Linked DNA regions of Homo sapiens. The protein of the gene in region 2 interacts with the protein of the main gene of each other region in a biochemical or structural test. Each region holds a gene or a part of one and is shown on either strand. Other genes may lie near its edges.

Region 1 (7,037 bases), on a different chromosome or scaffold from region 2:
CATGCAGCGATGCTGGGAAGCCTTGTTAATAATATAAAGCTTTTGTTCACTACATCGTCCTTTCAGAAGATGTATAACAGTGTCCCTAATTCCAGGAGTGAATTTTATATACATTCTGGGAGTTCACACTTTTATCTGGCAAATTCATAGGACTTAAATCTCAGGCAGATGAAATGTAGTCTACTACTTTTACAAGTATACCTTGTATTTCAAGAAAATCTTATCCCATCCTCCAAACCTGATATAAATACATTTATTCTTTGTCACTCTATATGCCTTTCCCTCCTCCCACATACTCACATGGTTCTTTCTAACCTTCCAGATTCAAATATTAAAGACATCTGAGGTCACGCAGCATCTGCCCAGGGAGTGTCTTCCAGAAAACCTGGGTGGGTACGTCAAAATTGATCTCGCCACTTGGAATTTCCAGTTCCTACCCCAGGTGAACGGCCACCCAGATCCCTTCGATGAGATCATCCTGTTCTCCCTCCCTCCTGCCTTAGACTGGGACTCAGTACATGTTCCAGGTCCCCATGCTATGACCATCCAAGAGTTGGTGGACTATGTTAATGCCAGGCAAAAGCAAGGAATCTATGAGGAATATGAAGACATTCGTCGTGAGAACCCTGTTGGCACTTTCCACTGTTCCATGTAAGTAGAAAAAGTTTGGGCCAGCAGCTGGTTACCAGGATGCTTCTGGTAGGCTCTGGCAACAGCTCCTTCCACCCCTCACTTGCTTAGCAGAGACCCTTCCTTATGTTAGGGAACATCACTCTCACATAAATGATGGTTTCTCGCATGCAGAAAGAGGTACTTTCTGCTTTGGTGCTTCTTTTTTTTTTTCTTTTTTTTTTAAATTTTTATTTTTTTTATTGATCATTCTTGGGTGTTTCTCGCAGAGGGGGATTTGGCAGGGTCATAGGACAATAGTGGAGGGAAGGTTGGCAGATAAACAAGTGAACAAAGGTCTCTGGTTTTCCTAGGCAGAGGACCCTGCGGCCTTCCGCAGTGTTTGTGTCCCTGGGTACTTGAGATTAGGGAGTGGTGATGATTCTTAACGAGCATGCTGCCTTCAAGCATCTGTTTAACAAAGCACATCTTGCACCGCCCTTAATCCATTTAACCCTGAGTGGACACAGCACATGTTTCAGAGAGCACAGGGTTGGGGGTAAGGTCACCGATCAACAGGATCCCAAGGCAGAAGAATTTATCTTAGTACAGAACAAAATGAAAAGTCTCCCATGTCTACTTTCTACACAGACACGGCAACCATCCGATTTCTCAATCTTTTCCCCACCTTTCCCCCCTTTCTATTCCACAAAACCGCCATTGTCATCCTGGCCCGTTCTCAATGAGCTGTTGGGTACACCTCCCAGACGAGGTGGTGGCTGGGCAGAGGGGCTCCTCACTTCCTAGTAGGGGTGGCTGGGCAGAGGTGCCCCTCACCTCCCGGACGGGGTGGCTGGCCAGACCCCCCCACCTCCCTCCCGGACGGGGCGGCTGGCCAGGCGGGGGGCTGACCCCCCCACCTCCCTCCCGGACGGGGCGGCTGGCCGGGCAGAGGGGCTCCTCACTTCCCAGTAGGGGCGGCCGGGCAGAGGCGCCCCTCACCTCCCGGGCGGGGGGCTGACCCCCCCACCTCCCTCCCGGACAGGGCGGCTGGCCGGGCGGGGGGCTGACCCCCCCACCTCCCTCCCAGACGGGGCGGCTGGCCGGGCAGAGGGGCTCCTCACTTCCCAGTAGGGGCGGCAGGGCAGAGGCGCCCCTCACCTCCTGGACGGGGCGGCTGGCTGGGCGGGGGGCTGACCCCCCCCACCTCCCTCCCGGACGTGGGGCTGACCCCTCCACCTCCCTCCCGGACCGGGCGGCTGGCCGGGCGGGGGGCTGATCCCCCCACCTCCCTCCCGGACGGGTCGGCTGGCCGGGCGGGGGGCTGAGCCCCCCACCTCCCTCCCGGACGGGGTGGCTGGCCCGGCAGAGGGGCTCCTCACTTCCCAGTAGGGGCGGCTGGGCAGAGGCGCCCCTCACCTCCCGGACGGGGCGGCTGGCCGGGCAGGGGGCTGACCTCACCTCCCTCCCGGACGGGGCGGCTGGCCGGGCGGGGGGCTGACCCCCCCGACCTCCCTCCCGGACATGGGGCTGACCCCCCCACCTCCCTCCCGGACGGGGCGGCTGTCCGGGCGGGGGGCTGACCTCCCCACCTCCCTCCCGGACGGGGCGGCTGTCCGGGCGGGGTGCTGATCCCCCCACCTCCCTCCCGGACGGGTCGGCTGGCCGGGCGGGGGGCTGAGCCCCCCACCTCCCTCCCGGACGGGGCGGCTGGCCCGGCAGAGGGGCTCCTCACTTCCCAGTAGGGGCGGCTGGGCAGAGGCGCCCCTCACCTCCCGGACGGGGCGGCTGGCCGGGCGGGGGGCTGACCCCACCTCCCTCCCGGACGGGGCGGCTGGCCGGGCGGAGGGCTGACCCCCCCTCACCTCCCTCCCGGACGGGGCGGCTGGCCGGGCGGGGGGCTGACCCCCCCACCTCCCTCCCGGACGGGGGGCTGACCCCCCCCCCACCTCCCTCCCGGATGGGGCGGCTGGCCGGGTTGGGGGCTGACTCCCCCACCTCCCTCCCGGACGGGGTGGCTGGCCAGGCAGAGGGGCTCCTCACTTCCCAGTAGGGGCGGCTGGGCAGAGGCGCCCCTCACCTCCCGGACGGGGCGGCTGGCCGGGCGGGGGGCTGACCCCCCCACCTCCCTCCCGGACGGAGCGGCTGGCCGGGCGGGGGGCTGACCCCCCCACCTCCCTCCCGGACGGGGCGGCTGCCGGGCGGAGACGCTCCTCACTTCCCAGACGGGGTGGCTGCCGGGCAGAGGGACTCCTCACTTCTCAGACGGGGCGGCTGCCGGGCGGAGGGGCTCCTCACTTCTCAGATGGGGCGGATGCTGGGCGGAGGGTCTCCTCACTTCTCAGACGGGGCGGCTGGGCAGAGACGCTCCTCACCTCCCAGACGGGGTCGCGACCGGGCAGAGGAGCTCCTCACATCCCAGACGGGGCAGCGGGGCAGAGGCGCTCCCCACATCTCAGACGATGGGCGGCCGGGCAGAGATGCTCCTCACTTCCCAGATGGGATGGCTGCCGGGAAGAGGCGCTCCTCACTTCCTAGATGGGATGGCGGCCGGGCAGAGACGCTCCTCACTTTCCAGACTGGGCAGCCAGGCAGAGGGGCTCCTCACGTCCCAGACGATGGGCGGCCAGGCAGAGACGCTCCTCACTTCCCAGACGGGGTGGTGGCCGGGCAGAGGCTGCAATCTCGGCACTTTGGGAGGCCAAGGCAGGCGGCTGGGAGATGGAGGTTGTAGTGAGCTGAGATCACGCCACTGCACTCCAGCCTGGGCACCATTGGGTGCTTCTTGCTAACATCCTATGCTCTGAAATTTCTGAAGGTCTTTGGTACCAACAGGATAACCCTGTTGGACATATTTTTGGATATTTTTCTGAAATGCAAGTTTTTTTTAAAAAAAGTAGGTTCAAAATAGGCTACTCTCTATTCCAGTACTCAGTGTGAGTGCTGGTCTGTTCATTTGGGCAGTTTCTCCCCATAACATTTATGGTATAACATTACTTCTTGAGGAGGGGTATGTGGTACACTTAAAATAATCCACAGTCAGAGAGTACAGTTGCCTCATAGGACTTTAACCCCTTGAGATTTTCATTCTACTCAAATCCTATCACAAAACCATCTCGCTAGTTTATAACTCTGGCTCGTAACTAGTTGATAACTATATATACATACATACATATATATATACACACCCACACACAAATTAGCTGGGTGTGGTGGCGCACACCTGTAATTCCTTCCTTCCTCCCTCCCTCTCTTTTTTTTTTCTTTCTGAGATGGAGTCTCGTTCTGTCACCCAGGCTGGAGTGCAATGGCACGATCTCGGCTCACTGCAACCTCCGCCTCCCAGGTTCAAGCGATTCTTCCTGCCTCACCCTCCCAAGTAGCTGGAATTATAGGCGCGCACCACCATGCCTGGCTAATTTTTGTATTTTTAGTAGAGACAGGGTTTCACGATGTTGTCCAGGTTGATCTTGAACTCCTGACCTCAGGTGATCTGCCTGCCTCAGCCTCCCGAAGTGCTGGGATTACAGGTATGATCTACCGCACCTGGCCTCTTTTTCTTTTTTCTCTTCTCTTCTTTTCTTCTTCTCTTCTCCTTTTCTTTTCTTTTATCCTTTTCTTTTCCTCAAATTCCTAGGTTAAAGCGATCCTCCTACTTCAGCCTCCTGAGTAGCTGGGACTACAGGTATGTGCCACTATGTCCAGCTCATTTTTTATTTTTTGAAGAGATGGGGTTTTGGCATGTTGCCCAGGCTGGTCTCAAACTCCGAGGCTCAAGTGATCCTCCTGCCTCAACCTCCCAAAGTGTTGGGATTACAGGTGTGAGCCACCGCACCTGGTCAGATTATTTCTCTTACCATGTTGCTGTCATTTCTCTTACCATGTTTTAATTGGCTGCCCCAGAAATCTCTTTCTCTCCAGCTAGTGAGCTGTGACTGTTGAAAACTACAGAAACTAGGGCTGGGGGCAGTGGCTCATGCCTATAATCCCAGCACTTTGGGAGTAAAGGTATAGGAGGATCATTTGTGCCCAGGAGTTTGAGACTAACCTGAGCAGCATAGCAAGACCCTACCTCTACAAAAATAAAAAACGAAAAAATTAGCCAGGCATGGTGGCACACTCCTGTTGTCCCAGCTATGCAGGAGGATCACTTGAGCCCGGGAGGTCAAGACCACAGTGAGTTATGATCACGCCACTGAGCTCCAGCCTAAGTGACAGAGTAAGACTTTGTCTAAGGAAAAAAAAAAAAAAAGAAAGAAAGAAAAGAAGAGGAAAAAAAAAAAAGAAAGAAAATGAGGGAAGCCATCCTAGTGGGTCCCAGCCTCATATTCCAACTTAACCAAAAATTCCCTCTGTGAGTGACACAAGTTATTTCCCTTCTCAGCACTTTGGTTTTCCTCTGTATAATATGTGACTACTGGACTCTGATATTCACCTACCTTTGTAGCTTAAATGTTTTAGAAATCTAGGATTCTGTGAGTACCTCTTCTCTCTTGTAACTCCTGTCCAGTGTAGTCAGTGTGTTCTGAATAAGATGCAGGGATAGAGTCTTTTAGCAAAGCAAAGAGGGAAAATAATGAGTTGGGGAAAATAATGAGATAGGGAAAGTAAGAGATAAGAGGCACTTGAGAAAGAAGTCAATCAGATCAAGAATGCAAAGGAAAATAAGAGGAGAAAAAGGGGACACAGACCATATATCAACAAGGGAAATTATTCTTTTCTCTCATACAGCTCTGTTTCTTCCCTACCAGCTCCAGACCCCTATTTTTATTTAATTTTTATTTCATTTTACTTATTGTATTTATTATTTTATTATTATTATTTTTTTTAGAGACAGGGTCTTGCTCTGTCCCCCAGACTGGCGCATAGTGGCATGATCATGGCTCACTGCAGCCTCCATCTCTTGATGCTCAATTGATCCTCCTGCCTCAGCCTCTTGAGTAGCTGAGACCACAGACATGCACCACCATGCCTGGCTAATTTTTTAAATTTTTTGTAGAGTCTCCCTATGTTGCCCAGGCTGGTCTTGAACCCCTGGGCTCAAGTGATCCTCCTGCCTCAGCCTTCCAAAGTGCTGGAATTATGGGTGCTACCTATACCCAACTACCAGACTCCCTGTTTATATCCAATCTCTTTTGCAAACAGAACAGTTATTCCCTTAAAGTCTTTTTTGTTGTTGTTGAGACAGTCTCACTCCATCACCCAGGCTGGAGTGCAATGGTATGATTTCGGCCCACTGCAACCTCCGCCTTGTGGGTTCAAGCCATTCTGTGCCTTAGTCTCCCAAGTAGATGGAATTACAGGTGTGTGCCACCACACCCAACTAATTTGTGTGTGTATATATATGTGTGTGTGTGTGTGTGTGTGTGTGTATGTATGTTTGTTTATTTATTTATTTATTTATTTTGAGACAGAGTCTCACTCTCGGCCAGGCTAGAGTGCAGTGCCACGATCTCAGCCCACTGCAACCTCCATCTCCCGGCTCAAGCAATTCTCCTGCCTCAGCCTCCTGAGTAGCTGGGATTACAGGCGTGTGCCACCACACCCGGTTAATTTTGTATTTTTAGTAGAGATGGGGTTTCACTGTGTTGGCCAGGCTGGTCTCAAACTCCTGACCTCGGGTGATTCGTCCTCCTTGGCTTCCCAAAGTGCTAGGATTACAGGCGTGAGCCACCATGCCTGGCCTAATTTGTGTATTTTTAGTAGAGATGGGGTTTTGCCATGTTGGCCAGGCTGATCTCGAACTCCTGACCTCAAGTGATCTGCCCACCTCAGCCCTGCAAAGTGCTGGGATTACAGGCATGAGCCACTATGCCCAGCCTCCCTTGCAGTCTTGAATCAAGGAAATATGTTGGAGCAGGGAGGCATGCTAGGCTGATCTAAGAGGATGCACACTTATCCTGGGGATTCTTCACCTTGCTCTCGGTGCTTTTGCAACTACCAGCTGCTGTGAGGCCCTTGAGATGTCATTTCTACTATGGAGTCTCCCCTCCTCCATTAAAAAAGTGGGTTTGGCTGGGCGCGGTGGCTCACGCCTGTAATCGCAGCACTTTGGGAGGTTGAGGCTGGCAGATCACGAGGTCAAGAGATTGAGAACATCCTGGCCAACATGGTGAAACCCCGTCTCTTCTAATAATACAAAAATTAGCTGGGTGTGGTGGCACGCACCTGTAGTCCCAGCTACTTGGGAGGCTGAGGCAGGAGAATCACTTGAGCCCAGGAGGCGGAGGTTGCTGTGAGCCAAGATCATGCCACCGCACTCCAGCCTGGGCGATAGAGCAAGACTCTGTCTCAAAAAAAAAAAAAAAAAAAAAAAAGTGGGTTTAGATCGTCTTGTTGCCATCATCCAAACCAGCTACCATTTGACAATCAGAGAACAGATCTCTCATCTAATGAGAGGACTTCCTAGTCTTGCCTATTGAATGACT
Region 2 (3,333 bases):
AGATAGCTAATAATAACGACCTGAACGAAGCACCTGAAACAAAGTTGCGCCATCTTTTCTTAGACTCATGACACATTCGCAGTCACAGGAGACCCAGATTCATCTGGAGATGATTTCAGGAATCAGCAGTACTCTTCATTTTTTTAGTTTTAGCACAACTTTGTTACTACAAAGAAGAAACTATATGACGGATACTGAGGCTAAGAAAAGCTACATGGTTGGTTATGTAGAGTTAATAAGCTATTTTTTAGTTGTTGAATTAACCTCAACTTGGTATCTTCTACTTTGCTGTGACTTTAGTAGCCTTTTACACCTTCAACAGGTGAATTGGTTGTCATTTGAACTCTGATGAATGGCCCTGTCCAGTCTCACAGCGATGCCTCACAGGCATCAGCACAGGGCACGCCTGGCCCAAGTGCCTATGATGGCCAGCGGGCTTGGGTCTTTTGGAACCCAGTGTACATAGTTCTGGAAAACCCCATTCACTTCCTCCAAATGATGTGATCTGCTTTGTTTTGTGTGAGAATGCTGGTCAAGGAGCAGGTAACACATTCAGTGACCTAGCAGAGCATTGATGAAGTGTGAAACCGAACACTGCCTTCTCATGAAGCAAGTGCAGAGTTGTTAGAAGGTACCATTAACCCATCTTCATTTCTTCTGATGTATTTAGATGGATCCTGAATACCGTGTGAGAAAATTCTTGGCCCTCTTAAGAGAAGAAGGAGCGTAAGTACATACAACATTTAATGACCATCAACCAAACTTACCACCCTGTTAAATCCCTGTGCCTATTCTAAGAGTTGCTTTCCTAGATAAGTTTGTTTCCATTTATTTGAATTCTTCGCTGTGTTGTAGGTCCGAGAGACCAAGCAAGGAAGTTGGTTGTACTGTTGGTTTGCTCTCCCTGTCCTGCTTCGCAAAACTTCCTTGTCACAATGCAGGAAAAACTTAATGGTACATATTTATTGGAACCTGCTTTTACATGCATGGAGCTGTGACCATTTTCTTTTGTGAAGTGCTCATCTAATAGCAAATGCATAGTGGGAAATGTAGGATAACCATTAAGAAGCTTTTAGTGATTTTTTTTTTTTTTTTTTTGATGAATAGTTTTTTACGGACCCTCATCTGTTTTTTTGTGTTTTGGTATTTCTTTTGCAGTAGCCCCCTTGATTTTGATTGAAAATGAACTATTTGAAACACACAGTGACCAAGGGAAGTGACCAAGGTGAAGATGGCCTAGGATCTTCACTGTCTTACTCAAGATACTGGACTAAGTGGAACGTTCTCTACCTTCAACATGTGCTCGCTCTGCATGATTAGTGCAATAAAACTCCCTTCCTTATGCATACTGAGATAGCTTAGTGTCTCGTGGAAGGTGTCAATTTGGTTTAGAATGCTGCGCTTACCTTCCCATGCAGGCTAAAGTGATTCCTTCTTGCTCAGTCCCTCTGGGTGGGAACCATCCAGTACTTGTGGACACTACACGTTTCAACCTCTCTACTAGCACCATCACCCTTGAAAACTCTCAGTCAGTGTCATGAATGTTGCATGACAACAGTTGGCCGATTAGAAGGCAGACTTTCTACATGCAAATCTGGCTTAGTAAATCGAGGTGTGGGCCAGAGATCCTCTGACAGCTGTCCTGAGCTAACACTAAAAGTCACTGGGTATTTGGTTAAAGGTCTCCCACAAGACTGGTATTCTCTTTGCCTGAAGAAACAAGGCATTGAATCTCTAAAATGCTGTTCTCAATCATTGTCAGAGATGTTTTCAAGTTGCAGTCAGAAGATCTTTCTTAATAGAAAGTCAGATGACTACCGTGTTGGTTGTGACTTCCCCTTAAGTATAACTAATTTGCTCTGTGGTAAGAGATATGCTCATTATTACCACTTAGAAGATGTTGTTAAAAACATGTGAAAGATAGGTATGGAAAAAGCATACACCCCCAAACAGAAAGGAGTTATTAAAGTAATTTACAAACCTCTCAGCACTAATTAGTGTCCAACTCCAAGTGGGTCAATTCCTTAGTATAATATTAAGGCTTACTAGTATCACTGCTTTTTCCTTAGCTTAATGACTTACTTAGAATTTATCCTTTATTTTAAATGATCTGTACTATCTAGTGTCTAAAACACTATTCTCCAGAAAAATCAATCATTTTCTAGCCCTCTCCCTCAGTCCTTTATTGTCCATTCCAATACATTGAACACATTTCCTTTACCCTCCACACACTTCTTCCAAAAGGAAGCACCCGTTGAGTCCTTTTGAGGGTGATTTGTCTTACAACTGACTGACTTAGCAGGAATTTAATTAGGTCATATTTGGTGATGAGACTTATGGAGTGTGCCTCTCTCTCCCAACTGCTGCTTAAAATGCAAGGACAAGCAATTAGAAGCCATCCTAAGGTGCTTACCTCACACGCCACCCATGAGGCTTGTGGCCACAGTGGCACTTGGGTGTGGCTCCTCTGTTATTTGTCCTCATGTGAGAAAGCAGATCATCTCCAAATCTTGCCATTTGTATACTTTTGGTGGAGACTTGGATGTCATATCTTCTTTGTTTTGGGTTTTCTTCCCTAGCTTATTTTGTGGCTTTTAAAGAAGTGGATTGTATTGTGAGATCCTGTGATTCCTGGTGGCCAGTATCCTGGATTCCTCTAAGATCTTGCCTCTTTCCTCCTCATGAAAGCAGCACACATTGTGTTAACTTATGTCTCTTGTTAAATGAGCTTAATGTCTTTGTGTTTTGTCCAAAACTGTATTGAAAAAATATTGTTTAATGCAAATGAAGGAATGCAATAAAGAGTAAATATACTTGAAAATGTTCTGTAGACCAGTGTTTCATATAGAACGACATGAACAGCTGATAGGAATGGAGGAAGAAGGAGGGGGCTCAGGAAAGAAACCTCTCCGTGTTTTGTTACAAGTAGCATAACATGAGGGATGATTTTTATTTTAAAAATCTCTTATTTAGAAAGTATAGTTATTTAAAAACATCATTAGAGTATCAGAAAAAGTTAATATACAACCATCTTTATGCTTTATACTTATTTTATCTTACTAAAAAAAAAAAATGCCTGGCACGGTGGCTCATGCCTGTAATCCGAGAGGGAGGCTGAGGTGGGTGGATCACTTGAGGTCAGTAGTTCAAAACCAGCCTGGCCAACATGGTGAAACCCTGTCTCTACTAAAAATGCAAAAAACAGCCGGGTGTGGTGGCACATGCCTATAATCCCAGCTACTCAGGAGGCTGAGGCAGGAGAATTGCTTGAACCTGGGAGGCAGAGGTTGCAGTGAGCCAGGATCACGCCACTTGCACTCAGCCTGGGCAACA
Region 3 (7,037 bases), on a different chromosome or scaffold from region 2:
CTCTTTTCCTTTATGAATCTCACCTCTCTCACCTTCTTCAGGTTTAAATACTCCAATTTTCCCTTTCTCTAAACTTAGAAATTTCCATGCATCACCCTCTTCTAGAATTCATCCCTCACCATTCCTTATATAATTGATTTATTGTAAAGACTCAGAAATAAATCAAACATTCTACTAAGAAAAATTGAGAAGGGGAGCTCTGGGGGTGGAAACATATTAGGGTAAAAGACTTAAAATTGGAGGCAGCATTATCAGAAGATGAAGAACAACTCAGGGATGGGGTGGGAAGAAGACAGGTCCTTTTCTGTACTTCCTAGACAACCTCCATTATTCCCTAAGGGAATCAGTGTTGTGTCTGTCTACTTTTTTTTTTTTTTTTTTGCCACGTAATTTTACAAACTCTCCCTTTTCTAGGCACCCGAACTCTCTGCCATCTTCTCTCCTGGGATGCAGTCATCCCATTTGTATGCCTCATACTTCCTCTACCCTGGTAGATTCTTTCAAGATCCTTGGGCTTTACTTTCCTCACATAACTCAGTTATTCTGCTTCTAGTTTACCATTTTATTCTGGAAATTGAGAGTCCCATCCAGGGGTGGACTTATGACACTACTGAAACTTAGACTTCAAGGTTCCTCACCTACAGGGCCCTCTTCCTGTGCTCTAATAATATAGAGGGCTCGATGGATATGTGTTCATATGGTAACAGGCTTTTGTAAAAATTGCAGAAATAAGATTTTAACAGCAATTGCTTAAAGCCAATTGTATGTGTAATTTTTTTTCTTAAAGACTCCCAATTTTGTAATATTCAGGCACCACAGAACCAAGATCTGCCCCAAACTTAGCTATTGGCATTCCCGTCTCAAATTCTGTTGTCCTATGAAAAATCGAAGAAGAAAATAAGTCCTGACCCCCTTACCCCCAGACCCACCTTGTTCTTATCCCCAGGCACCCTCCCCTCAGAAACGCAGGCTTCTGCTCTCCCCGGTCTTCAGCATGGACAGGTGTGGGAGGGGGCTGGGGATCAGGCCAGGGAAGCTGGGCGCCAGTGGTAACTCTTCTCTGATCCCCGTCTTTCCTGCTGCCAGTGAATCGAACGCCACACTCAGGTGAGATGAGAAACCCTTACCGCGCGCACTGCAATGCCCTCCCCTTCACTCTGCACCCTCCACCCCCCTGAAATTCTGCCCTTAGGCTACGGGGCGTCGTCCTTTCGCACCTTCCCCAACCCACCCCAGTTTGCGGCCACCCCCTTCCCTCCCTACCTGTTTCCTGCCTCCAGTCCCGGTTTTCCACGAGGCTGCGGTCTCTCCTTGTCCCTGCTTGGCTACACTTCCCTGGGCTCCACCTCCTCCCAGACTGAGCCTCGCCGGTGTCAGGCAGAGCCCAGCAGAGGGCGGCAGGGTGCTGGGAGACCCTGAGCTCCCACCACGTTTTCCCCTGTGGGGTTCCTTGCGACCTTCGCTGGAACCTTTTCCAGCCTGCTGCCTCCTAGGATTTCACCTAATGGACTTTCTCAGCCTGTCCCACCCATCCCAACCCTGGCCAGGCCTCTCGCGCTCTTCCCCACATCTTTTCCTTCCGTGTACCCCTTCCCTCGTCTTTTCTCAATTCCATGTCCTGTCTCCCTTTCTTAGGCTTCTGTCTACCCAGCCCCAGGCTCCCTTCCACGACCCCACCACTCCCTCAAACCAGCCTCCCTTCCGTACCCAACTCGTTCCCTCCAAAACCGTTTCCTCTCCCCCACATCCTCAGTGCTTCACTGTATCGACTCATACTCCCACTTCAGACCTCAGGCGCCAGCCCCGTTTCTCTCCCGTCCCACTCGCATCCTTCCCTTCCTACCCTGGTTCCTCCGTGCTTCAGCCTCCCGCGGCTCCCTCCGCCCACCCCGCCCTCCTGGCACGCCCCGTCCCCATTTCTCCTCCCCTCGGGTCCCCTTAAGTGAGATCCCTCCCTTCCTCTTTCGTTCCTTTCCTCCTCGAGGTTGCATCCCCCCTCCCCTCCCCGCCCCTCCGACTGTCGCTCCCACCTCGGCGCTCGCTTCCCTCCCCGCCCCCTTCCTGCCTCCCCAGCTCCCGCCCGCCCCCCCACCCCCCGCTGCCGCGCGCCGCCCGTGACGTCAGAGCCCCCTCCCAGCCCCACATCTCCCTCCTGCTCCTCCTCCTCCCCTCCGTCGGTCAGTCAGTCCGCGAGGAGAGTCCGCGGTGGCGGCGACGGTGGCGAGAGCCGCGGGGGCCGTAGGAAGCCAACCTTCCCTGCTTCTCCGGGGCCCTCGCCCCCTCCTCCCCACAAAATCAGGGATGGAGGCGCCTCCCCGGCACCCTCTTAGCAGCCCTCCCCAGGAAAAGTGTCCCCCCTGAGCTCCTAACGCTCCCCAACAGCTACCCCTGCCCCCCACGCCATGGGGCCCGGGGCCCCTTTTGCCCGGGTGGGGTGGCCACTGCCGCTTCTGGTTGTGATGGCGGCAGGGGTGGCTCCGGTGTGGGCCTCCCACTCCCCCCATCTCCCGCGGCCTCACTCGCGGGTCCCCCCGCACCCCTCCTCAGAACGGCGCGCAGTGTACATCGGGGCACTGTTTCCCATGAGCGGGGGCTGGCCAGGGGGCCAGGCCTGCCAGCCCGCGGTGGAGATGGCGCTGGAGGACGTGAATAGCCGCAGGGACATCCTGCCGGACTATGAGCTCAAGCTCATCCACCACGACAGCAAGGTAGCCCTGGACATGGGGGTGGGTGGGAGGTGGGGGCTTGCGGGGCAGGGGGCCAGCCAGCTGCACGCGCCCCCATCTGTCTGAGTCGTCTCTGGGATTGCGAGGCAGACCCCTCCCTTGTGTGACTGGCAGGAGATGGGCTGGGGGTGCAGGAGCTTGGGGAGAGTCGCAGGGGCTGGAGGTCCAAGATGAGGGTCTAGGGGCTCAAGATGGTTAAGCATGCTGCAAGGCAGACCCTTCTGCCCCGCTGCGGGAGTCTCGCAGAAGTGTCGGGGTTTGGAGAAACTGGTGGTGGATTTAAGGTATTAGGAGACACTGATCCTCTGAGGGAGTAAACTAACCCTGGAATGGGTTGGGGGTGGAGGGAATGTCAGAGGTGGGGAGCTGGATTGGGGGTTTACATTTACCATGGTAACAAGGTAAAATCTTGGCGTAGGTTGGAGCTGGAAGGAATAGGGACAGAATGAGGAAAATTTTGAGAGACTTGAGAGCTCTAGTTTATTTATCTTAACAAAACAGCAAGGTAGTGGTGAGCCCTACCTGACTCCTTCTCATCCTTCTATTCCCAACCCTGTTGAGCATTCCCAGACTGTGGGATAGATGGCATATGGTGATTGGGGAAGGCTAATGATCAAGAGGTGGGCAGAGGCACTGGGAAAATGAATTGGATTGGGGATCCACATGGGAACCCCCACAATAGCATGGGGATGAAGAAGAGTCAACATACAAGGAGAAGAGAACAGAAAAGAATGGCAGTGGGGGAGAGGGGCAAGGAGGTAGCGTGGGGATAATGAGAGATCTTGGGGCACCTTATGGAACTTGGGTCCTGACCTTCCCTTCCCTTATAGCATTGTGGCCTCTAGGATGTGAGAAGGGAAATGGGATGTAGGGATTAGGGAGGTGAGTTGAGGGAGAGAGAGAAGGTAAGCAAATTTGGGTCCAGGGGTATTAGGGGATAGCTTATAATGAGGTTTTTTTTCCCACCCCTCTCCCCTACATGAATAATTGGGGGTGCAGGGAAGGATGTGACACAGGGAAGGAGATTTAAGATCTCAAATTTATCTTCACTGACATGTGGCCCCAGAGACTTAAGGAATTGGGTTAGGGTGAAATAGAGTACACAAGGTGAGAATTTGGTGATCTTACCAAATATCAACCTTGGGGTGATCCAAGGATTTATATTCATTTTTAGAACATCACTATACACCTAGAAATAGGTGTGTGTCTGGGATAGGTGTGTGAGGGGACAGAAGTGAGGTTGAAGGTAGGGTGCTTGAAGAGAAGAGAGCACAAGGATTATCAGGAGCTTGGCAAGAGAACTTAAAATCCTTTTTGACTGTTACTTTCTCGTGGTTCTCAGCCTTCAGTGTACATAAGAATCACCAGAGGAGTTTGTTAAAAATACAGATTCTAGCTCCTTGGTCAGGGATGAATCCCAAGTATTTATCTGTATTTTTACTAATAGACATCCTATCTTGGTGGATTCCTGAGCTGTAAGCTAACCCCAGAATGCCTATGGGAAGAGCAGCAGGGTACAGGAAAATAATTAGGTATTAGGGTACGGGAGGCAGGAAGAGAAGTAGAGGATCAGATCTGGTAGAGGGTCAGACTTGGGACAGTCAGAGAGATCATTGGTTTTGGGGAGTGGAGTGTGAAGAAAATGACAGGGAGAGATGGGTGCAGGCTTTATGATAGGGGATCACAGGAGATAGGGGAGGCCTGGCTGTGAGCTCAAACTCATCCACCATGACAGGTGATTCCCTGGAGGTGGCGGGGAGCAGACGTGGGACCTGGGAGAAGGGAACTGGAGAACATCAGAGGCATCAAGCGGGGTGGGATGGGAAGGCAGAAGAACCAGAATGTGTCAATTGGAATGAGTCGGTTTCCTGCCTGCAAATCCAGATCCTTGCAAGAGCAAAGAGAGGGAGGAGAACTAAGGAAATCTATTGGGGAGGGGGAGAGAATCACGTGGTGGAGAGAATCTGCAGTGATGAATAGTGTGTGGAAGAGGGAAACGGTTGCAAGAAAAGGTAGATAAGAAATCAGGAAACAAAATGGGGGGCATGCCTTGCCCTGTTGATATGTATCTTATATGTTCTTGTATGTCCTCATTGTTCCTATTAACCCTGTCTTTAGAGAAGTGGAGGGGCACTGAGGGGCTGTGGGAGAAGCTGGGAGCAGGATCTGGAGTAATAGATGTGGGGAGAGTGCAGGAAGGTGGGTCCTGAGAATGGTAAAGATTTACAAAGTTGCCCTAGTGGGAGGCATAAAGAGAAAACCTTCCAATGTTGTTGAGCACTGCCCTTGGCCAGAGTGAGGGTAGGGTGGGCAACAGAGAATTCTCAGTGACTGCTGGTTCTTCAGATTCCAACAGCTTCCCCTGGCTCCCCCTTCTCCAACTTCCCACCGTGTCCCAAATGTCAGGCCTCAGTGGGAGGTAAGCAGGCTCCAGAGTGCTTTCTTTATTTCCTTTCTACTTATCCTCCCCTCCTGGCAACATTTCACCCTCCTTAGTCCCCTGAGCCCCCTGTCTGTGTCCCCTCTGCCCTGGCTCCCCACTGGCTGCCATTTCGTCTTCACATGCATTGGGGTTCCAGCAGCTTCTGAAATGTCATATATCAGTGGGAGGGGAACAGGCAGTGGGAGACCCAAGGCTGGCTCTTCCTCCCCCATTTCCCCTCCTCCCAAGCTTCCTTTCTTCTCCAGCTTTCTGCTTGTTTACTTTCCCTAGCTCCAAGCCTCTCTTTAAGGCACCTCTCAAATTGTCTGGTTTCTTGAGAGTTCCATTCTATTCATTCTCTCTGTTCTTTCCTCATCCTACATTCTTCCCTACTTCCACCCCCCAGTGTCTTTTTTTCTAATGGACCTGTCAAATGTCAGCGCCCAGCAGGAGGGATGGATCACTGAGCGGGACCCCCTACTGGTCTTGTTCCTGTTCTCTCTTTACTTATCACTAGCTCTGAAAAGAGAAGAGGGAGGAAACAAATGGAAGGTGGGGAGAAGGGGTTTGCAGAGGTGAGGAAGGAATTTTCATAATATGGCTTTGAGCAAGCTATCTGGGGATGTGGAAAGAGTTTACCGTATTCCTACTGACTTCTTCCACCCACTGGTGTTTGAAGCATAGAAACATGGGGTAAAGGGCTTGGTGACAGAGGGAAGGGGGATGTCTGAGGGTGAGCTGAAAGGAGGTAAGGTGGTATGTTCATTAATACCAAAGGAGGGGTGTGCAGGAGAGGTGATGGGTAAGGCTCCAGATGGAAGACAGAGAAGGAAGTTTAATGAAAGAGGAGAAAAAAGGCACTTGACAGGAAGAGATGCCAGAAAGGAGAAGAAAACGGTAATTAATGATGAAAGTGAGTAATTGAGAAAGGAACTAATTTGTTCGAGAAAGATAAGAGCAGGAATTGCAGACAGGGGAGGGGCCCCAGGAGAGCTTGCCCTCATCTCCTCTTGTCTTTCAGTGTGATCCAGGCCAAGCCACCAAGTACCTATATGAGCTGCTCTACAACGACCCTATCAAGATCATCCTTATGCCTGGCTGCAGCTCTGTCTCCACGCTGGTGGCTGAGGCTGCTAGGATGTGGAACCTCATTGTGGTAAGCAGGGCTATGGGGGTCAGAAGATGGGGTCATTCCCTTTTGAGCTCTACTGAAGGGACGATGGCGATTGTGGGTTTGTATTGAAAAGGAGTGTGGAGGACCTGCTACTAAGATTCAGAGTCCTCTGCAGACCTGAGCTAGGCAGCCTCCTAGCAACAGTGGCCTGACAGTGCTGCAGCTGACCTCCTTCTTCAGAAGGAATTGAAATTAGATCAGTGAAAGAGCATCCCGGTTGTGAGGGGTGTGTGGGCCTTTGAGAATCTCTTTTCCTTAGGCAGACCAGAGGTGGGGAGGTTTGGAGAGAGTAAGGAAGAGAAACCCAAAGGCAGGAAGAGGGTTAAAGGAACTCTTGGCCACTCTTGGTGTCCTCAGTGAACAGACCCTGTTGCACTCACTCTCCCTGCCCCACAGCTTTCCTATGGCTCCAGCTCACCAGCCCTGTCAAACCGGCAGCGTTTCCCCACTTTCTTCCGAACGCACCCATCAGCCACACTCCACAACCCTACCCGCGTGAAACTCTTTGAAAAGTGGGGCTGGAAGAAGATTGCTACCATCCAGCAGACCACTGAGGTCTTCACTTCGGTGAGGAGGGGTTGGGCAAGGGGTAAAGGGACATAAGCTCAAATTCCAGCACCAGGAGATGTGACGTGAGAGTCACTTTTAGGGGCAAGAACTTGATTCTTCATTGAAAGAGAACGCATTCCATGTGGATTAAGTGCAGTTCTTTCTG

Evidence for each region.
Region 1: of the proteins of NSF (region 2) and PTPN9, one has a biochemical effect on the other in vitro, tested with the Homo sapiens proteins (one study listed by IntAct).
Region 3: the proteins of NSF (region 2) and GABBR1 form a complex in vitro, tested with the Homo sapiens proteins (one study listed by IntAct).

What each region holds. Positions count from the first base shown.
Region 1 is NC_000015.10:75,499,289-75,506,325, reverse strand, and holds part of PTPN9 (tyrosine-protein phosphatase non-receptor type 9), read left to right. Parts: intron 1-322; coding exon 323-651; intron 652-3,286; exon of another isoform or gene 3,287-3,323; intron 3,324-6,936; exon of another isoform or gene 6,937-7,037. UniProt on the Homo sapiens protein: Protein-tyrosine phosphatase that could participate in the transfer of hydrophobic ligands or in functions of the Golgi apparatus.
Region 2 is NC_000017.11:46,754,644-46,757,976, forward strand, and holds the end of NSF (vesicle-fusing ATPase), read left to right. Parts: intron 1-670; coding exon 671-726; exon of another isoform or gene 727-730; intron 731-1,158; coding exon 1,159-1,180; 3' UTR 1,181-2,821; downstream 2,822-3,333.
Region 3 is NC_000006.12:29,623,157-29,630,193, reverse strand, and holds part of GABBR1 (gamma-aminobutyric acid type B receptor subunit 1 isoform a precursor), read left to right. Parts: intron 1-1,086; coding exon 1,087-1,107; intron 1,108-2,180; exon of another isoform or gene 2,181-2,402; coding exon of another isoform or gene 2,403-2,547; coding exon 2,548-2,708; intron 2,709-6,169; coding exon 6,170-6,304; intron 6,305-6,718; coding exon 6,719-6,889; intron 6,890-7,037.